5 linked regions of the Homo sapiens genome follow. The protein of the gene in region 1 purifies or fractionates together with the protein of each later gene. This does not show direct contact. Each region holds a gene or a part of one and is shown on either strand. Other genes may lie near its edges.

Region 1 (3,518 bases):
CTCCGCCTCCCGGGTTCAAGTGATTCTCCTACCTCAGCCTCCCAAGTAGCTGGGACTACAGATGCTTGCTACCACGCTGGCTGATTTTTGTATTTTTAGTAGAGACGGGGTTTCACTCTGTTAGCCAGGATGGTCTCGATCTCCTGACATCGTGATCCGCCCACCTCAGCCTCCCAAAGTGCTGGGATTACAGCAGTGAGCCACCATGCCTGGCCCATGCCTGGCTAATTTTTAAATTCTGTAGAGACAGAGTCTGACTTTGTTGCCCAGGCTGGTCTTGAACTCCTGGGCTCCAGCAATCCTCCCATCTTGGCCTCCCAAAGTGCTGGGATTACAGTTTTGAACTACTGCTCCTGGTCCAACATGATTTGTGAAGTATATATAAGTTGTGGAATGGGTAAATCTAGCTGTTTAAAATACATATTCACATAGTGGTCATTTTTGCAGTGAGAACATTTAACATCCACCCTCTTAATATTTTTCAAGATCTTTAGATTTTCTAGCATGGGCTAGGTAGCCAGGTCTCTGCTGAGCTCAGACTTGCATTACCTGCAGGAGACTTTGGAGGAAATGGCAGCTGCCCCTTACTGAGTGTCTGCTGAGTGCCAGGCGGTGCTCAGGAGTCTTATTTATGAGCCCTGTAGATCTGTAGTAGCATCTTCTCATTACAGAGGAAGAAGCTGGAGGCCAGGAGGCTGAGCAAATAGCCCTGGCTCACAGTGCCCCTCAGTGACAGAGCCAGGATTGGAAGCCAGGTCCCATTCCCCGCCCATGTTCCTTGTGCTTTGCCCTCTGCCTTTCATCAGGTTCACATGTGCAGGAGGAACTTGGCTCTGTCTAATGTGTATGTGTGTTTCAGATTATTCTGACTCCACTGAAGTCAAATTTGAAGAGCTTAAAAATGTCAAACTAGAAGAGGAGGATGAGGAGGAAGAACAAGCAGCAGCTGCCTTGGATCTTTCTGTGAATCCTGCGTCTGTAGGGGGACGCCTTGTCTTCTCAGGCTCCAAAAAGAAATCATCTTCTAGCCTGGGCTCTGGCTCTTCACGGGATTCTATCTCTTCTGATTCAGAAACTAGTGAGCCTCTCTCCTGCCGAGCCCAAGGGCAAACGGGAGTTCTCACTGTGCACAGTTATGCCAAAGGGGATGGCAGGGTCACTGTGGGAGAGCCATGCACGAGGAAGAAAGGAAGCGCCGCTAGAAGTTTCAGTGAGCGGGAGCTGGCAGAGGTATGGGCTCCAGGCAGTGGTGTGGGGTGGGGAGCTGCCCTGGAGGACACCCTGTCGGGAGGGGATCTGTGTGGGGGAGGGAGGTGGATCTGTGTGATGGAGGTGCTGCAGGAGGGCAGGAGAGACCCTCAGTCAGTGCCTCTAGCCAGCAGTGGTTGTGTCAAACAAAAGCCTGGGGTGGCATTCACTCTCCCAGCTTGTTCTTTGCTGGGAGTTGCTTTTCTGTTATCCCTGTGGCTACTGATTCCAAGAATTGCATCAATGCAGCCTGAGTCACAGCAGCAGATCCTCCTCAGCCCACTTGGATCACAATGCCTTTTTTTTTTTTCTTGAGATAGAGTCTCTGCTCTGTTGCCTAGCTAGAGTGCAGTGGCATGATCTTGGCTCACTGCAACCTCTGCCTTCCAGGTTCAAGCAGTTCTCCTGCCTCAGCCTCTCGAGTAGCTGGTATTACAGGTGTGTGCCACCACACCCAGCTAATTTTTGTATTTTTAGTAGAGACAGGGTTTCACCATGTTGGCCAGGCTGGTCTGGAACTCCTGACCTCGTGATCTGCCCACCTCAGCCTCCCAAAGTGGTGGGATTACAGGCGTGAGCCACTGTGGCTGGCCTTTTGTTTTTTTTTCTTTTTTTTTTTGAGACGGGGTCTCGCTCTGTTGCCCAGGCTGGAGTGCAGTGGCACGATCTTGGCTCACTGCAAGCTCCGCCTCCTGGGTTCACACCATTCTCCTGCCTCAGCCTCCCGAGTAGCTGGGACTACAGGCGCCCACCACCACGCCCAGCTAATTTTTTGTATTTTTAGTAGAGACTGGGTTTCACCGTGTTAGCCAGGATGGTCTCGATTTCCTGACCTTGTGATCCGCCTGCCTTGGCCTCCCAAAGTACTGGGATTACAGGCGTGAACCACCGTGGCTGGCCTTTTCAACTGGGGTAGGCAGGAACTCTTCCTCTGATCCTCATTGCCTTAGCGGCACCAGGGTTAGAATGGCTGCTGTTGGAGCCCACGTGTTTGGAGGTTTGGGATCAGATGAGATGACCTTTCTTACCTTGAAATTCAAGGGTTTTTTTCTTACACCTCTTGACTGCCCTGTAGACTCCCAGTATGACATTGATAGAGCATCCTTTTGGAGACCAAGATGCATTCCCAAAGCTATAAACACGAACATGTGTGTTCAGGCTTCCTCCTTAAATACATGTTGTCACCAAAAGCTGATTCCTGCTTTTGTGCAAAATGGCTCTTGGTGGGTCTGCCACTCTGAGTGATCAGTCATGTCAGATGCCACTGGACCCCCACTACCCAAGTGACTTTCCCTGACTCCCCAGCCTTGGAGCTTATGTGGGTCAAGCTGCAGTCTTTGGTGAGGGGTGGGAGATAGAAGAAGCCAGTGCAGAAGGTCCTCTTTATTCCCTATTCCCTTACCTTTAGTTTTTAAAAATGTATCTTAAAAATCTTCACTATGGAAAATTTCTGACGTACGTACAAAATACCATCACGAGCCCCCGCGTGTACTCATCATATATATGATTAACATTTGGCACATTTGCTTTCTGTTTTCTTTGGCTGCAGTACTTGACACTCAGTCATATTCACATTTCCCTAGTGTTGCCAATAGTCCCTTTTTATGGTAGGTTTGTCTCCTTGTTGTTGATACTCATAACTTTTCTCGGTGCCTTCTCTGAATCTCAGGGTACGGTTTTGGTAGACTTCTTTTTACCTTGTGAATGTTCCTCTTTCCATCCCACTGTGGTTGCAGGCTAATGAGCTAATAACTACTGTGTTTCCTTCTCATTGCCTCTGATTGCAGTTCTCTGTGCCTTCTTATGGCAGCTTCCATAAAGGAGGGCTTTTTCAGCCTGGAAACCAGAGTCTCTTTAACTCCCAGTTGCCACCTAGCAATTCTTCCTTCGCAGAGGCCCCGGGCCATTTCATCCATCCTACTGTTGACTACTGTTCACTACAGTTCATGCTGTCCTCTTGCTGAGTCTTCCTGACATTCTTGTTTCTAGTTGCAATCACAATCACAAAAAGCAGCTAAGAAGTAGCAAGAGCTCACTGTATATTAAATACTTTGTTTATCTTTTTTGAGACAGGGTCTTGCTCTGTTGCCCAGGGTAGAGTGCAGTGGCACAGTCTTGGCTCACTGCAACTTCTGCCTTCTGGGTTCAACCCATCCTCCCCACCTCAGCCTCCCAAGTAGCTGGGACTACAGGTGCACACCACCACTCTTGGCCAATTTTTGTATTTTTCGTAGAGATGGGGTTTCAACATGTTGCCCAGACTGGTCTCG
Region 2 (3,518 bases), on another chromosome or scaffold:
TTGTACATATAATATGTGTGTGTATTTGTGTATATGTGTATATATATATATATATATATATATTTTTTTTTTTTTTTTTTTTTTTTCTTTTTTTTGAGACTGGGTCTCGCTCTTTTGCCCAGGCTGGTCTCAAAGTCCTGGGCTCTAGCGATCCTCCCGCCTTGGCCTCACAAAGCACTGGAATCACAGGTGTGAGTCACTGTGCACGGCCAGTTGTTTTTATCTTGTAATAAAAAAGAAGGGCCTCCCTGTAGTTGTGCTGTGGAGAATGGATCCTGGGGGATGAGGCTGGAGATGGGAACCAGGGGGGAGGCTGAAATGGACACAGGGAACGGTACAGGGGCAGGAGTGCCCCAGGCTGCAGGCCCCAAGGTATTTCGAGGCTGTGGAGACACACCTTGGAGGACCCTGAGAGGCATGGCCGCTGTCTTACCCTGTGACCCCACAGGCCCAGCGCAGCCTGTGCCTGGGGGGCCCCCACCATCCCGCGGCTCCGTGCCTGTGCTCCGCGCCTTCGGGGTCACCGATGAGGGGTTCTCTGTCTGCTGCCACATCCACGGCTTCGCTCCCTACTTCTACACCCCAGCGCCCCCTGGTGAGTGGCCCCTACCCAGCCCCTCCCTGAGCCACTGGAGCCCCCTGCACCTCTGATCATCCCTCCCACACCAGGTTTCGGGCCCGAGCACATGGGTGACCTGCAACGGGAGCTGAACTTGGCCATCAGCCGGGACAGTCGCGGGGGGAGGGAGCTGACTGGGCCGGCCGTGCTGGCTGTGGAACTGTGCTCCCGAGAGAGTGAGTGCTCCCCCAGGATCAGCGGGTTGGAGGGTCCCCTCGGGAGGCCATTGGCTGGTCCCAGCTTCTTCCATCCACAGGCATGTTTGGGTACCACGGGCACGGCCCCTCCCCGTTCCTGCGCATCACCGTGGCGCTGCCGCGCCTCGTGGCCCCGGCCCGCCGTCTCCTGGAACAGGGCATCCGTGTGGCAGGCCTGGGCACGCCCAGCTTCGCGCCCTACGAGGCCAACGTCGACTTTGAGATCCGGTACGGCCTCTGCCTCACTTCTCCGGCCTCTATCCCCACCCTCGGGCAGCCCCTGTCCACTGACCCCCAGCCCCCTCCAGGTTCATGGTGGACACGGACATCGTCGGCTGCAACTGGCTGGAGCTCCCAGCTGGGAAATACGCCCTGAGGCTGAAGGAGAAGGTGCAGGGCTTCCCAGGGCAGGGCTGGGTGGGGAGCTGGTACCCTGCTGCCACCGCTGACCCACCCATGCCCACAGGCTACGCAGTGCCAGCTGGAGGCGGACGTGCTGTGGTCTGACGTGGTCAGTCACCCACCGGAAGGGCCATGGCAGCGCATTGCGCCCTTGCGCGTGCTCAGCTTCGATATCGAGTGCGCCGGCCGCAAAGGTCTGTCCCCGGGCCCGGGCTCCTGCCCGCCTCATTGATGTGCCAAGTCGGGGGTCGGAAAGGCAGGTCCGGTGGAGGGAATGGCAAGCATGAAGGTGCCGGGGCAGGAGCACCCCAGCCCATGTGGCCAGATGGAGTGAGCACAGAGGGTGTGGAGATGGCCTGGAGGTGAGAGCAGAGCAGGAGCCAGGGTGAGCCACGTAGGGCCGGCAGGCAGCGGGGACAGCCCCGGGGAGATGGCAGGTGCAGCCTCCCTGCTGTGTTGGGAGTGAGGGGCAGGAGTCAGGCCCCTGCATCCTCCTGCCTCGCAGGCATCTTCCCTGAGCCTGAGCGGGACCCTGTCATCCAGATCTGCTCGCTGGGCCTGCGCTGGGGGGAGCCGGAGCCCTTCCTACGCCTGGCGCTCACCCTGCGGCCCTGTGCCCCCATCCTGGGTGCCAAGGTGCAGAGCTACGAGAAGGAGGAGGACCTGCTGCAGGTAGCTCTCGCTCCACGCCCCACACCATTTCCCGGGGTCCCCGCCAGCCTCCGCGTCCTGAGCCATCAGCTCCTGGGTGCTGCGACGCCCATGTCTGTGGGTCTGGGTGGGTGTCTGTGGGTCTGGGTGGGCCCCTGTGCAATTAGGCTTGAGCACTTCCCCTCTGGGTTCTGCAGGATTTTCAGGGGTGGCTGGGGTTCTAGAACATTCTGGAAGTAGGGGAATCCGAGGCAGGGCAACCACCAGGGTGACCCAATGTGCTCCCACCCCCAGGCCTGGTCCACCTTCATCCGTATCATGGACCCCGACGTGATCACCGGTTACAACATCCAGAACTTCGACCTTCCGTACCTCATCTCTCGGGCCCAGACCCTCAAGGTGAGGGCTGGGCAGGTGGGAGGCTTCTCTCAGATGCCCCAGGTGTGGCCTCCGGGCCCTGGGCCTCCTTCCCACTCCCTCTCCACATGGCTTGGTGCATCTTGCTCTGTGTGCCTCAGCCGATTGCCTGCAGGGGCAGCCTAGGCCTGGTCCTGCCCTGCTCCAAGTCGAAAAAGTTACTGTGGCTTTTATCAGAGGCAAGGAGGGCGTTACGGTGGAGTAAGAGAAGGCTGTGCATTCAAGGTCGGCCTGAAGCTTGCAGGGGTTCAACAAGCCATGAAGCAGCCACTGAATCCCAGTCTTCCTTTAGGTTATATCAGCATAAGGAAAAGAATCATAATGGAGGAGGAGGGGGGAGTGTGTTGACTGATGGGGCAAATTCCGGATGCTTCTTGAGTCTGCATGTGTGTAAGGGTGGATTCCTCTGCCCGAGTTGCTGTAACAAAGAGCCACAGACCAGGTGGCTGAAAACAGCAAAAAGTCATTGTCTCACCGTCCTGAAGGCTGGAAAGTCCATGACCAAAGTGTCAGCGGGCCTGCTTCCTTCGGGGGCTGCAAGGGAGGACTGGTTCACGGCCTCTCTCCTTGGCTTGCAGACGGCCATCATCCCCCTGTGCCTCTTCACACCGTCTTCTCTCTGTGCGTGTCTGTTTCCACATGTCCTCCCTTTTTTTTTTTTTTCCAAGACAAAGTCTCGCTCTGTCGCCCAGGCTGGAGTGCAGTGGCGCAATCTTGGCTCACTGCAAACTCCGCCTCCCAGGTTCATGCCATTCTCCTGCCTCAGCCTCCCAAGTAGCTGGGACTACAGGCGCCCGCCACCACGCCTGGCTAATTTTTTGTGTTTTTAGTAGAGACGGGGTTTCACTGTGTTAGCGAGGATGGTCTTGATCTCCTGACCTTGTGATCCGTCTGCCTCGGCCTCCCAAAGTGTTGGGATTATAGGCGTGAGCTACTGCACCCAACCCCTTTTCTCTTTCTTTTTTTTTTTTTTTTTTTTTTGAGACAGAGTCTCGCTGTGTCGCCCAGGCTGGAGTGCGATGGCACGATCGAGGCTCACTGCAACCTCCACCTCCCAGGTTCAAGCGATTCTCCTGCCTCAGCCTCCCAAGTAGCTGGGATTACAGGCGTGAGCCACCACGCCCCGCAAATTTTTGCTTTTTTGTTATTGTTTCTTGAGATGGAATTTCGCTCTTGTTGCCCAGGCTGGAGTGCAATGGCACGATCTTGGCTCACCACAACCTCCGCCTCCC
Region 3 (3,518 bases), on another chromosome or scaffold:
TGGCACCTCAGCCCTATCCAAAGATAAATGCCAGTTAAACTTTTTATTTTCTTAAACCTATGAGCCTTTATTTTTGTGTTGCATTTTTCTGTACTAGTATGACCAAGGTCACCCACAGTCAGGTTTCTGAAGTAGCCTCCATCACTTTGGAACTAAAACTTAGTTTAGCTACTGTTTTATTAGCACTGATATTAATTAATTCAGAAATGGGAATTGAATGTTAGAATTTGATTCAGGTTCTCATATTTGCTTGTTTTTTAATGTACATTATCAAAATTGGTATAGGGCATATTCATTTAGAGGACTTTAACTTCTGCTGAGGTATTGAATGTTGGCCAGTAATAAACTACTTAGGAATGGATTTTCAGTATATGGATGTACTTGTTTTATGGTGTCCATATTAATAATAGGGATAATGATAATACCTGCATGAAGTATTTTATGTTTTTACATCACGAATGTTAGAGTAGTGATTTTAAGAGGGCTGTTTTATAATCTCAAATTTTATATAACATGAAAAGTGGTATTTTTCAATATTCATTGATTTAAAAATATGAAATTCTGTAAATTCAAAAACACATAAAAATAGAATTTTCATATTTGTTAACTCAGGATATAGTATTTGTTTAAGAAATTACTATGCTTGGGATTCATTTGGATTCGTGAACATATTACAATAACTGTCTTTCCCAACAGATAGGACCACTAACTGAAATGTTTGTTAGAACTAAGTCCTGCAATTGGAAAAGAGAGAATCATCAAAATTTTAAATTAGTTAATTAGTTGCTGGCTGGTGAAGTTATCTTTCCATTTGATATTAGGGAGATGAAGATGAAGAAATTGATGGAGATACCAATAAATACAAGAAAGGACGTAAGAAAGCAGCTTATGCTGGAGGCTTGGTTTTGGACCCCAAAGTTGGTAAGGCTGGGCAGTGAATTGGTTTTCTCCCAGTATTAAGGAATTTCTTAATGTGGATCTAGGCTTGAGAAACTAGAAGACTGAATTATATCTTATAGATCAGCGAATAGGTCTCATGACTTTTATCTTTCGTTCACGTGAAAATCTTGGTTGCCAGTCACCTGACATAGACTTAATGTGAATTTTGTTATGCTGTGTTCCAATAAAATATTATTTATAGACATTGAAATTTAAATTTCATATAGTTTTCATATGTCATGAAATATTGTTTTTGATTTTTTTCCAGCCATTTAAAAATGTAAAAACCATACTTAAGCTCATGGGTGGTACAAAAATAAGTAGGTTGGATTTGGTCTGTAGCCGTAGTTTGTCTAATACATAGATAGCTGTCCAGTACATAGATAGCTGTTTGTCCTGACCAGTTCAGTTGACAGCAAAGTTGAAGGACGTGCAGACAATAACCACCAAATTTAACTTTAATAGGAGAATATCTTTTTCCCTATTGTCATGAATGGCAAAGATGTTTTGTGGTACACAGAGCTAGAAATAATTTTTTTTTCTTTTTTTCTTTTTTTTTTTTGGAGACAGAGTTTTACTCTGTTGCCCGGGCTGGAGTGCAGTGGTGCGATCTCTACTCACTGCAACCTTCACCTCTTGGGTTCAAGCGATTCTCCTGCCTTAGCCTCCTGAGTAGCTAGGACTACAGGTGTGTGCCAGCATACCCAGCTAATTTTTTTGTATATATAAAAAAACATTTCAACCCTTCCCAAGTGTACAGTTCAGCAGTAGTGTTAAGAATATTCACATTGCTGTGAAGGAATTAATGTGAATTTTATCTAATAAGTTAGTTCTGAGTAGGAAACATTTTTGACAAAAGTGATTTTGTTATTAGTTATAATGAAATGGAGCAGTAGTACTTGGTGTTATGTAGGTCTGGGTTTGAATTCAGTGTGATCTTGGGCTGCCTGTTTAACCTCTGTAAGCCTCAGTTTCTTCTGTAAAATAGAGTTAAGAGTAATATCTACCACACAGGGATTTAAGGATAAATTAGTATAGTGCTGGACACAGAATAAACTATCCTATATGTTTGCAATTATTATTGTCTTAATAGTGGACATTTATTTTTATTCAGTTTCTTCTCAAGGTGAAGATAACTCTTTGTAAATGTCCTACAGAAATATAGTAGCTTTCTGTTCTTCCTTTGCAAGTAAAAAGGGTGGGTCGTTCCACTACTGACATTTATATATATGTGTCTCTTGTTTGATTTTAGCTCAGTTTTTGTACAGGTAAATGTGCCGTCCATTTTATTTTTTGAAGCTGTTGTAAAAGAATAAATTACTCTACCAGGCGCGGTGGCTCACGCCTGTAATTTCAGCACTTTGGGAGGCTGAGGCAGGCAGATCACGAGGTCAGGAGATCGAGACCGTCCTGGCCAACATGGTGAAGCCCCATCTCTACTAAAATATAAAAAATTAGCCGAGCACGGTGTTGCGCGCCTGTAGTCCCAGCTATTCGGGAGGCTGAGGCAAGGGGACTCACTTGAACCCGGGAGGCAGAGGTTGCGGTGAGCTGAGATTGCGCCATGGCACTCCATCCTGGAGACAGAGTGAGACTCTGACTCAAAAAAAAAAATAAAAATAAAAATAAACCACTCACTTGGTTTTATTTGGGGTGGGGGGTGGGAGAGTAGGTAGGAGGATTCTTCAAAGAATTCTTGCTTTGAAGGAGAGTTGAACATTTTTTTTTTTTTAATGGATGTGACACGTCTCAGATAGCTGATTGGGAAGGTATTTGCTCATAATAATGGTGTGCTTTGGGGACAGCTGGGGAAAGGACTGGTTGTAGCTGGTTCTAAAGAGAGACAGGATCTTTTTCTCCCTCTTCTTTTGTGATCTGGCTTTTCACTAATCCGCATCATTTTATGAAATGGTAGTTGATTCTTTTTTTCCCTTTTTGTCTGTTTCACAGCTCTGGGTAGTGTATATGGATAGTATATAGTTTCTAATATACTTACAGTGCTTTTAATAATGATGTTTTGACAATTCTGCTTTTCTTTAGACTTTTTATGACGTGGCTTTTTAATTTCAGGTTTTTATGATAAGTTCATTTTGCTTCTGGACTTCAACAGTCTATATCCTTCCATCATTCAGGAATTTAACATTTGTTTTACAACAGTACAAAGAGTTGCTTCAGAGGCACAGAAAGTTACAGAGGTTTGTATTTAACCTGGGACTCTTGAAATTGAGTTTAAAAAAATTGCTTAAAGAAGGAAGATCTGTGTCTTTTTAAAATAGTTTTATTGTGGTATTATTCATATACCATATACTTCACCTGTTTGAAGTGTGTAGTTCAGTGGCTTTTAGTGTATTCCCAGAGTTTGCAACCATCATCACAATGAGTTTTAGGATATTTTCATTATTCCCCAAAGAAACCTTTTAGCTGTCACCTCCCTCAATCCCCATCCCTTCCACCTCTAGGCAACTACTAATCTTTTTGCTTTTATAGATTTGTGTATTCTGGACGTCTCATATAAATAGAATCATACATTATATGGCCTTTCGGTATCTGGCTTATTTCACTTATAATGTTTTCAAGGT
Region 4 (3,518 bases), on another chromosome or scaffold:
AGCAATGTCTAAGATTATTTTGAATTTACAGCAGTATTTTAGTGGTTCACCATATAATTTAAATAATTTTAATTTTCAGATTCAAAGACTTAGTATTTCTTGAGTGATGGTTATAATTTTGTATAAAATACGGCTTTTTGGATTGTATATCTTCCAATTGCCTTATAATATAGTTTTGCTTCCCATATTGTATGCATAACAATATTTAGGTTTCTTAAAAATACATTAGAAAATTTATTTATACCAGACTTCACATTTGTATTTTAAAACTTGTTTTTTTAGTTTCATTCTGAGAAATTACATTGAGGGTAGAGCCTGTTCATTACCTTATCCATGCATTTTTCTGCTTATTTAAATTATTTTACTTCACCAAGCCATTCATTTTTTTAGAACATCCTTCAAAGAGTTCATGCATCTTACTGAGGACACCTGACCTTTTGAAGCTTCATAATTCACATCTAGATGTCACCGGTCTTTCCCATGTTAACAGTTCTGACCATGTTTTATTATATATGCCTTCGGCGCCGAGCCAGGACAGCTACAAGAGGAGAAATGATGAACACCCATAGAGCTATAGAATCAAACAGCCAGACTTCCCCTCTCAATGCAGAGGTAGTCCAGTATGCCAAAGAAGTAGTGGATTTCAGTTCCCATTATGGAAGTGAGAATAGTATGTCCTATACTATGTGGAATTTGGCTGGTGTACCAAATGTATTCCCAAGTTCTGGTGACTTTACTCAGACAGCTGTGTTTCGAACTTATGGGACATGGTGGGATCAGTGTCCTAGTGCTTCCTTGCCATTCAAGAGGACGCCACCTAATTTTCAGAGCCAGGACTATGTGGAACTTACTTTTGAACAACAGGTGTATCCTACAGCTGTACATGTTCTAGAAACCTATCATCCCGGAGCAGTCATTAGAATTCTCGCTTGTTCTGCAAATCCTTATTCCCCAAATCCACCAGCTGAAGTAAGGTAAGACTAATTTTTTAATGACCTAAGTTATATGGTAGAAAGGTTTTGGTTGTTAATATTGGAGATCTTTTTTATTGCAAGCATTCTTTTAAGTAACTTAATTGAATTTGATTTTGAAAATTTTCCTTAGTTTTCTGATGGGGAAGAGAGATCACTCATATAAAGATTTAATTCAGGCTTTATACCTGTAATACCTCATACTGTAATATTCATGGCTTATGATATTTGTATCTCATAAAATTTACCAAAACCAAAAAGCACAATTTGAACTCATAGGGACATGGGCCATTCTGGGACGTTAGTACGAAATATGACTTTGAAAATATTTTCAAACAGGCATCATGTTACTACTTTTAAATCTTTTCAACAACTCACAATAGGCCTGTGAGTGACACTTCAGAGGAGGTCCTTAGGGGATTTGGTTTAACGTTAGTTGAATGTTTTTGCAACACCCATATTCATTTAAAAATCAATGTTGCTTTAAGTAATTCATGCATTCTCCCTACAAGCCTGTTTTGCATAACAGCTCCTTGGCTGTCGTTTTTGTCATTCAACCTCCTAATTTTACAAAATATTAATATAATGCAGTCTCACATGTACCCTGTTCTCCATGTGCCTAGGACCCATTCCTCCCTCGAAGAAACCACTTTTATCAGCTCATTTTGTATCTTTCCAGAATTTCTTTGTGCAGACACAAGCAAATACAAATATAATTTTATATTTTTATACACAAAAGTAAGCATATTTATCACACTGTTCTGTACCTTGTTTCACACAGTAGTATATGTTGGATCTTTTCTTGTAAGTACAAAGAGAGCTTCCTCATTCTTTCCTGCATTTGCAAGTAATGCATAGTGTGTATGAACCCCAACTTATTAACTAGTCCCCCATTGATGGGCACTTAGTTGTTTCTAGTCTTTTGCTCTTATAAACATTAATGCAGGGAATGACCTTATCATAAGTCACTTTGCATGTGTGCAAGTATATCTGTGGGATAAATTTCCTAGAAGAAGGCTACTCAACCAAGGATAATTTGATAATTTTGTAATGTTTAACATTTTTTTTTTGCATTTTAACAATTTATTCTTAGTTACATTTAATTTTAATTTTTAACAGTTGTAATTTTCATATGTAATGCCAAATTTCTCTCCAAAGAGTCTGTACTATTTATATTCCCACTAGCAGGGCATGTACATGGGTGTTTTGCCAAAGCCTCGCCTACAGAGTATGTTTATAAATTTCAATATTTTTGCAATTTAATAGGTGAAAAATGTTATCTCATGTTAACTGTTAAAATTCTTTTATTATCTCTGAGGTTGAAATCTTTTCATATGTTTAAAAGCCATTTATATTTCTTTTTCCTTTAACTATCTGATCATATTATTTGCTCATTTTTTCTATTACTCATGGATCTTAGCAGTTTCTAGGACTTCATATCACTTTATTAAATCACTCGTTCATTAAATATTTTAGTGCCTACCTAATGTGCTAGGTGTTGTTCTAGGTATTAGAGATGTGTCAGCGAGCAGTGAACAAAATAAATAAAAATTCCCGCTCTCATTCTAGCCTGAGAGCAGATCAGGGCACCTGTTCAACTGTAGGGATGGCCAGCTGCCAGTGCAGGAGGAGGCGGGCAGAGGTCAGCTGCTACCTCCGTAACATGCAGCTCCTCTGATATCTCTGTCCCCTCATCTCTAAGGGAATACTTCCAGGGCCTGCCAGAAAACATACAGAGTACAGCTCAACTTGGAGATTGCTGGTATAATCTTTACTTTTTTTTCCAGAACTACCTAATAATTCATTGCAAATAATGTTATTAGTCGTTTTTTAAACTCAGAAAGCCAGCATACCTTAATTAAAATCAGATTTTTGTTTTCTCCCTAAGAGGAAAAAATGGAGTAGGATCTTTTGTTTTGTTTTGAGACAGGGTCTCACTCTGTCGCCCAGGCTGGAGTGTAGTGGCACGATCTTGGCTCACTGCAACCTCTGCCTCTCGGGTTAATGAGATTCTCCTGCCTCAGCCACCTGAGCGGCTGGGATTACAGGTGCGTGCCACCATGCCTGGCTAATTTTTGTATTTTTAATAGAGATGGGGTTTCACCAGGTTGGGCAGGCTGGTCTCGAACTCTTGACCTCAGGTGATCCGCCTGCCTCGGCCTCCCAAAGTGCTGGAATTACAGATGGGAGCCACTGTGCATGGCAGGATCTTTTCTTATATGAGAATTGTTTTATTAGGACTCTGACATTCTTCTTACAAAGTTACCTACTTTTTTCCAAAAATCTGAAAAGATTTAGGGAGGAGATCAATGGAACATGTAATGTGTTTTCTCCAGTCTAAAACTTAACAGCTGCATAACTAATTTTAAGTACAAATCATGCTCTTGGGTTACTGAGAGTTACTGGTATATGGTTGTGATTAAAGTTAAAACTTTATTTATACCTGTATCTCTAATTTTCTTTACTGATTTTCAGCTTTAGTCTACTGAAAATACCATTACATTTTAAGAGAAAAAAAGGTGACCAATATATTATTAAGATATAAGA
Region 5 (3,518 bases), on another chromosome or scaffold:
TATAAGGGACTTGAGCAAAAGTGAATTTTGGTGTCTGAGGAAGGGCCTAGCACCAGTCCCCAGGAACACCAAGGGACAGCTGCATATTGTTCACTCCTTGATTCTTCAGTTAGGGAAAATGTCTGGAGGATATTGGCATCTGAAGATTCATAGTCTGAGATTTTGCTTATTGATCAATTTCACCATCAGTAGCATTTAGAATGTTGCTATTGGTGTCTCTGCAGTTCTGTACTGTTCTGTTCTGTTCTTTTCTTTCTTTCTTTTTTTTTGAGACAGAGTCTTGCTCTGTCACCCAGGCTGGAGTGCAGTGGCACGATCTCGACTCACCATAACCTCTGCCTTCTGGGTTCAAGCGATTCTCGTGCCTCAGCCTCCCAAGTAGCCGGGACTACAGGCGTGCGCGGGCACGCCCAGGTAATTTTTGTATTTTTAGTAAAGATGGATTTTCGCCGTGTTGGCCAGGTTGATCTTAAACTGGCCTGGAGTGGTCCGCCCACCTTGGCCTCCTAAAGTGTTGGGATTACAGGTGTGAGCCACCATGCTTGGCCTACATTGCAGTTATTTTCTGATTCACCTAATAATTAGGAAGAGTCCTCCTCTCAATTTTTTTCTCTTTCCTGTTGTGGGTAGAGAATGAAAAATTTTGAATTCTTGGCTGTGGTTAGTGAAAGCTTACAAGATAACAAAGGTGGTATATCTGCACTTCTATTACATCTTTTGAAAGATAATATGGTATCTCAAGCAATGCAGTTAAAAAACTGAAGGATGAGGCTTTTTTTTTTTTTTGAGACGAATTATCGCCAGGCTGGGGTGCAGTGGCGTGATCCCGGCTCACTGAACCTGGGAGGCAGAGCTTGCAGTGAGCCAAGAGGGCCACTGCACTCCAGCCTGGATGACACAGCGAGACCCTGTCTGAAGAAAAAAAAAAAAAAAGTGTATATTTTCTTTGTTCTTTGAAAGACCTCCAAGAAAGAACAAATGCCATAAAATCTCAATCCTTATAAATAGTTACAATTGCCCCCCAAAAAAACTCAAAAATGGAAATTGGGCCTCACAGTCCCTGATATACCGATTGTTTAAAAGTCCTTGTGAAGGCAACTGAATTGGTCTCAGAAGGTGCCAGTAAAAACCTGTCATTCTTTCAGGGGCATTGACGTTGTGAGGAATAAAATTAAAATGTTTGCTCAACAAAAAGTCACTCTTCCCAAAGGCCGACATAAGATCATCATTCTGGATGAAGCAGACAGGTAGAGTGCTTTGCCAAATGTATTTTGACCTTGATCTCTAAATCTCTTTTTCGGTTTTATTCAATCAGGATAAAAAGCACTTTTATGGTAGATTTGCTTATCATATCTTCCACAAGCAATTTAATAGGGGCCTGCACCTTAAATCTTATCTTTATTAAGTAACTTACAAACATTTGTCTAAGATAGTCATTCATTTAATGTGCTGGTTTCAGCATCTCTTACGTTAATAATTTAAATGAGGGTTTTTGTTTTTTTTTTTTTTTGAGATGGAGTTTCTCTCTGTCACTCAGGCTGGAGTATAGTGGTGTGATCTCTGCTCACTGCAACCTCCGCCTCCCGGGTTCAGGCGGTTCCCTGGCCTCAGCCTCCCAAGTATCTGGGACTACAGGCATCTGCCGCCACACCCGGCTAATTTTTGTATTTGTATTTGTATTTGTATTTGTATTTATTTATTTATTTTTTTTTTGAGACAGAGTCTCGCTCTGTCTCCCAGGCTGGAGTGCAGTGGTGCGATTTCAGCTCACTGCAACCTCCGCCTCCTGGGTTCACGTGATTCTCCTGCCTCAGCCTCCCGAGTAGCTGAGACTACAGGCATGCACCACCACGCCCAGCTGATTTTTTGTATTTTTAGTAGAGAAGGGGTTTCACCATGTTAGCCAGGGTGGTCTCAATCTCCTGACCTCGTGATCCGCCCGCCTCAGCCTCCCAAAGTGCTGGGATTACAGGCATGAGCCACCGAGCCTGGCCTAATTTTTGTATTTTTAGTAGAGATGGGGTTTCGCCATGTTGGCCAGGCTGGTCTCGAACTCCTGACTTCAGGTGATCTACCCGCCTCGGCCTCCCAAAATGCTGGGATTATAGGTGTGAGCCACTGTGCCTGGCCTGTAAATTTTTTTATTGTGGTTAAATGGACATAATTAACCATAAATTTTTTTTTTTTTTTTTTTGTGAGACGGAGTCTTGCTCTGTCGCCCAGGCTGGAGTGCAGTGGCGCAATCTTGGCTCACTGCAAGCTCCACCTTCTGGGTTCACGCCATTCTTCTGCCTCAGCCTCTCGAGTAGCTGGGACTACAGGCGCCCTCCACCACGCCCAGCTAATTTTTTTGTATTTTTAGTAGAGACGGGGTTTCACTGTGTTAGCCAGGATGGTCTTGATCTCCTGGCCTCATGATCCGCCCGCCTCGGCCTCCCAAAGTGCTGGGATTATAGGTGTGAGCCACTGCGCCCGGCCCAAAATTTACCATTTTAACTATTTTGAAGTATACAGTTCAGTGGCATTTAGTACATTTGCAATGTTGTGCAACCATCACAACACTTCGGTTGGTATAAATGAAGAATCTGAGTCCAGGCTCGGTGGCTCATGCCTGTAATCCCAGCACTTTGGGAGGCCGAGGCAGGCGGATCACCTGAGGTCGGGAGATGGAGACCAACATGGAGAAACTTCGTCTCTACTAAAAATACAAAATTAGCCAGGTGTGGTGGCACATACCTGTAATCCCAGCTACTTGGGAGGCTGAGGCAGGAGAATTGCTTGAACCCCGGAGGCGAAGGTTGTGGTGAGCTGAGATCATGCCATTTGCACTGCAACCTGGGCAACAAGAGCGAAACTCCATCTCAAAAAAAAAAAAAAAATTGAAATGACATTAAGAAAAGAATATAGAACCCTAACCCTATAACGTTGTTTTTTGTTGTAGTTTTTGAGACAGGGTCTCACTATATCACTCAGACTAGAGTCCAATGGCACAGTCATAGCTCACTGCAACCTTGAACTCCTCGGCTGTAATGATCCTCCACCTCAGCCTCCCAAGTAGCGGAGACTACAGGCTTGTGCAACTGCAACCAGCTATTTTTTTTTTCACAGGGGCAGGATCTCACTATGTTACCCAGGCTGGTCTCAAACTCCTGGCCTCAAGTGATCTGTCTGCCTCGGCCTCCCAAAGTGCTAGGATTGCAGGCATGAGGTGCTGTGCCTGGCGAAATAAATTTTTTTTAGGGCCAGGTGCGGTGGCTCACACCTGTAATCCCAGCACTTTGGGAGGCCGAGGCGGGCAGATTGCTTGAGGTCAGGAGTTCGAAACCAGCCTGGCCAACGTGGAAACCCCGTCTCTACTAAAAGTATAAAAATTAGCCGGACATGGTGGCGCCCAGGCTGGAATGCAATGGTGCTTGTAATCCCAGGTACTAAGGAGTCCAAGGCAGGAGAATCGCTTGTACCCGGGAGACAGAGGTTGCAGTGAACTGAGATGGTGCCAGTGCACACCAGCCTGGGCA

Evidence for each region.
Region 2: the proteins of KDM4A (region 1) and POLD1 purify together in Homo sapiens (pull-down; one study listed by IntAct). This does not show direct contact.
Region 3: the proteins of KDM4A (region 1) and POLA1 purify together in Homo sapiens (pull-down; one study listed by IntAct). This does not show direct contact.
Region 4: the proteins of KDM4A (region 1) and FBXL4 purify together in Homo sapiens (affinity purification with western blotting; one study listed by BioGRID). This does not show direct contact.
Region 5: the proteins of KDM4A (region 1) and RFC2 purify together in Homo sapiens (pull-down; one study listed by IntAct). This does not show direct contact.

Annotation. Positions count from the first base shown.
Region 1 is NC_000001.11:43,670,646-43,674,163, forward strand, and holds part of KDM4A (lysine-specific demethylase 4A), read left to right. Parts: intron 1-859; coding exon 860-1,230; intron 1,231-3,518. UniProt on the Homo sapiens protein: Histone demethylase that specifically demethylates 'Lys-9' and 'Lys-36' residues of histone H3, thereby playing a central role in histone code. Does not demethylate histone H3 'Lys-4', H3 'Lys-27' nor H4 'Lys-20'.
Region 2 is NC_000019.10:50,401,330-50,404,847, forward strand, and holds part of POLD1 (DNA polymerase delta catalytic subunit), read left to right. Parts: intron 1-448; coding exon 449-595; intron 596-669; coding exon 670-795; intron 796-875; coding exon 876-1,044; intron 1,045-1,124; coding exon 1,125-1,206; intron 1,207-1,282; coding exon 1,283-1,412; intron 1,413-1,723; coding exon 1,724-1,890; intron 1,891-2,163; coding exon 2,164-2,268; intron 2,269-3,518. UniProt on the Homo sapiens protein: As the catalytic component of the trimeric (Pol-delta3 complex) and tetrameric DNA polymerase delta complexes (Pol-delta4 complex), plays a crucial role in high fidelity genome replication, including in lagging strand synthesis, and repair.
Region 3 is NC_000023.11:24,742,409-24,745,926, forward strand, and holds part of POLA1 (DNA polymerase alpha catalytic subunit), read left to right. Parts: intron 1-821; coding exon 822-921; intron 922-2,032; exon of another isoform or gene 2,033-2,162; intron 2,163-2,191; exon of another isoform or gene 2,192-2,485; intron 2,486-3,009; coding exon 3,010-3,134; intron 3,135-3,518. UniProt on the Homo sapiens protein: Catalytic subunit of the DNA polymerase alpha complex (also known as the alpha DNA polymerase-primase complex) which plays an essential role in the initiation of DNA synthesis.
Region 4 is NC_000006.12:98,923,933-98,927,450, reverse strand, and holds part of FBXL4 (F-box/LRR-repeat protein 4), read left to right. Parts: intron 1-390; 5' UTR 391-462; coding exon 463-974; intron 975-3,518. UniProt on the Homo sapiens protein: Substrate-recognition component of the mitochondria-localized SCF-FBXL4 ubiquitin E3 ligase complex that plays a role in the restriction of mitophagy by controlling the degradation of BNIP3 and NIX mitophagy receptors.
Region 5 is NC_000007.14:74,244,391-74,247,908, reverse strand, and holds part of RFC2 (replication factor C subunit 2), read left to right. Parts: intron 1-1,145; coding exon 1,146-1,247; intron 1,248-3,518.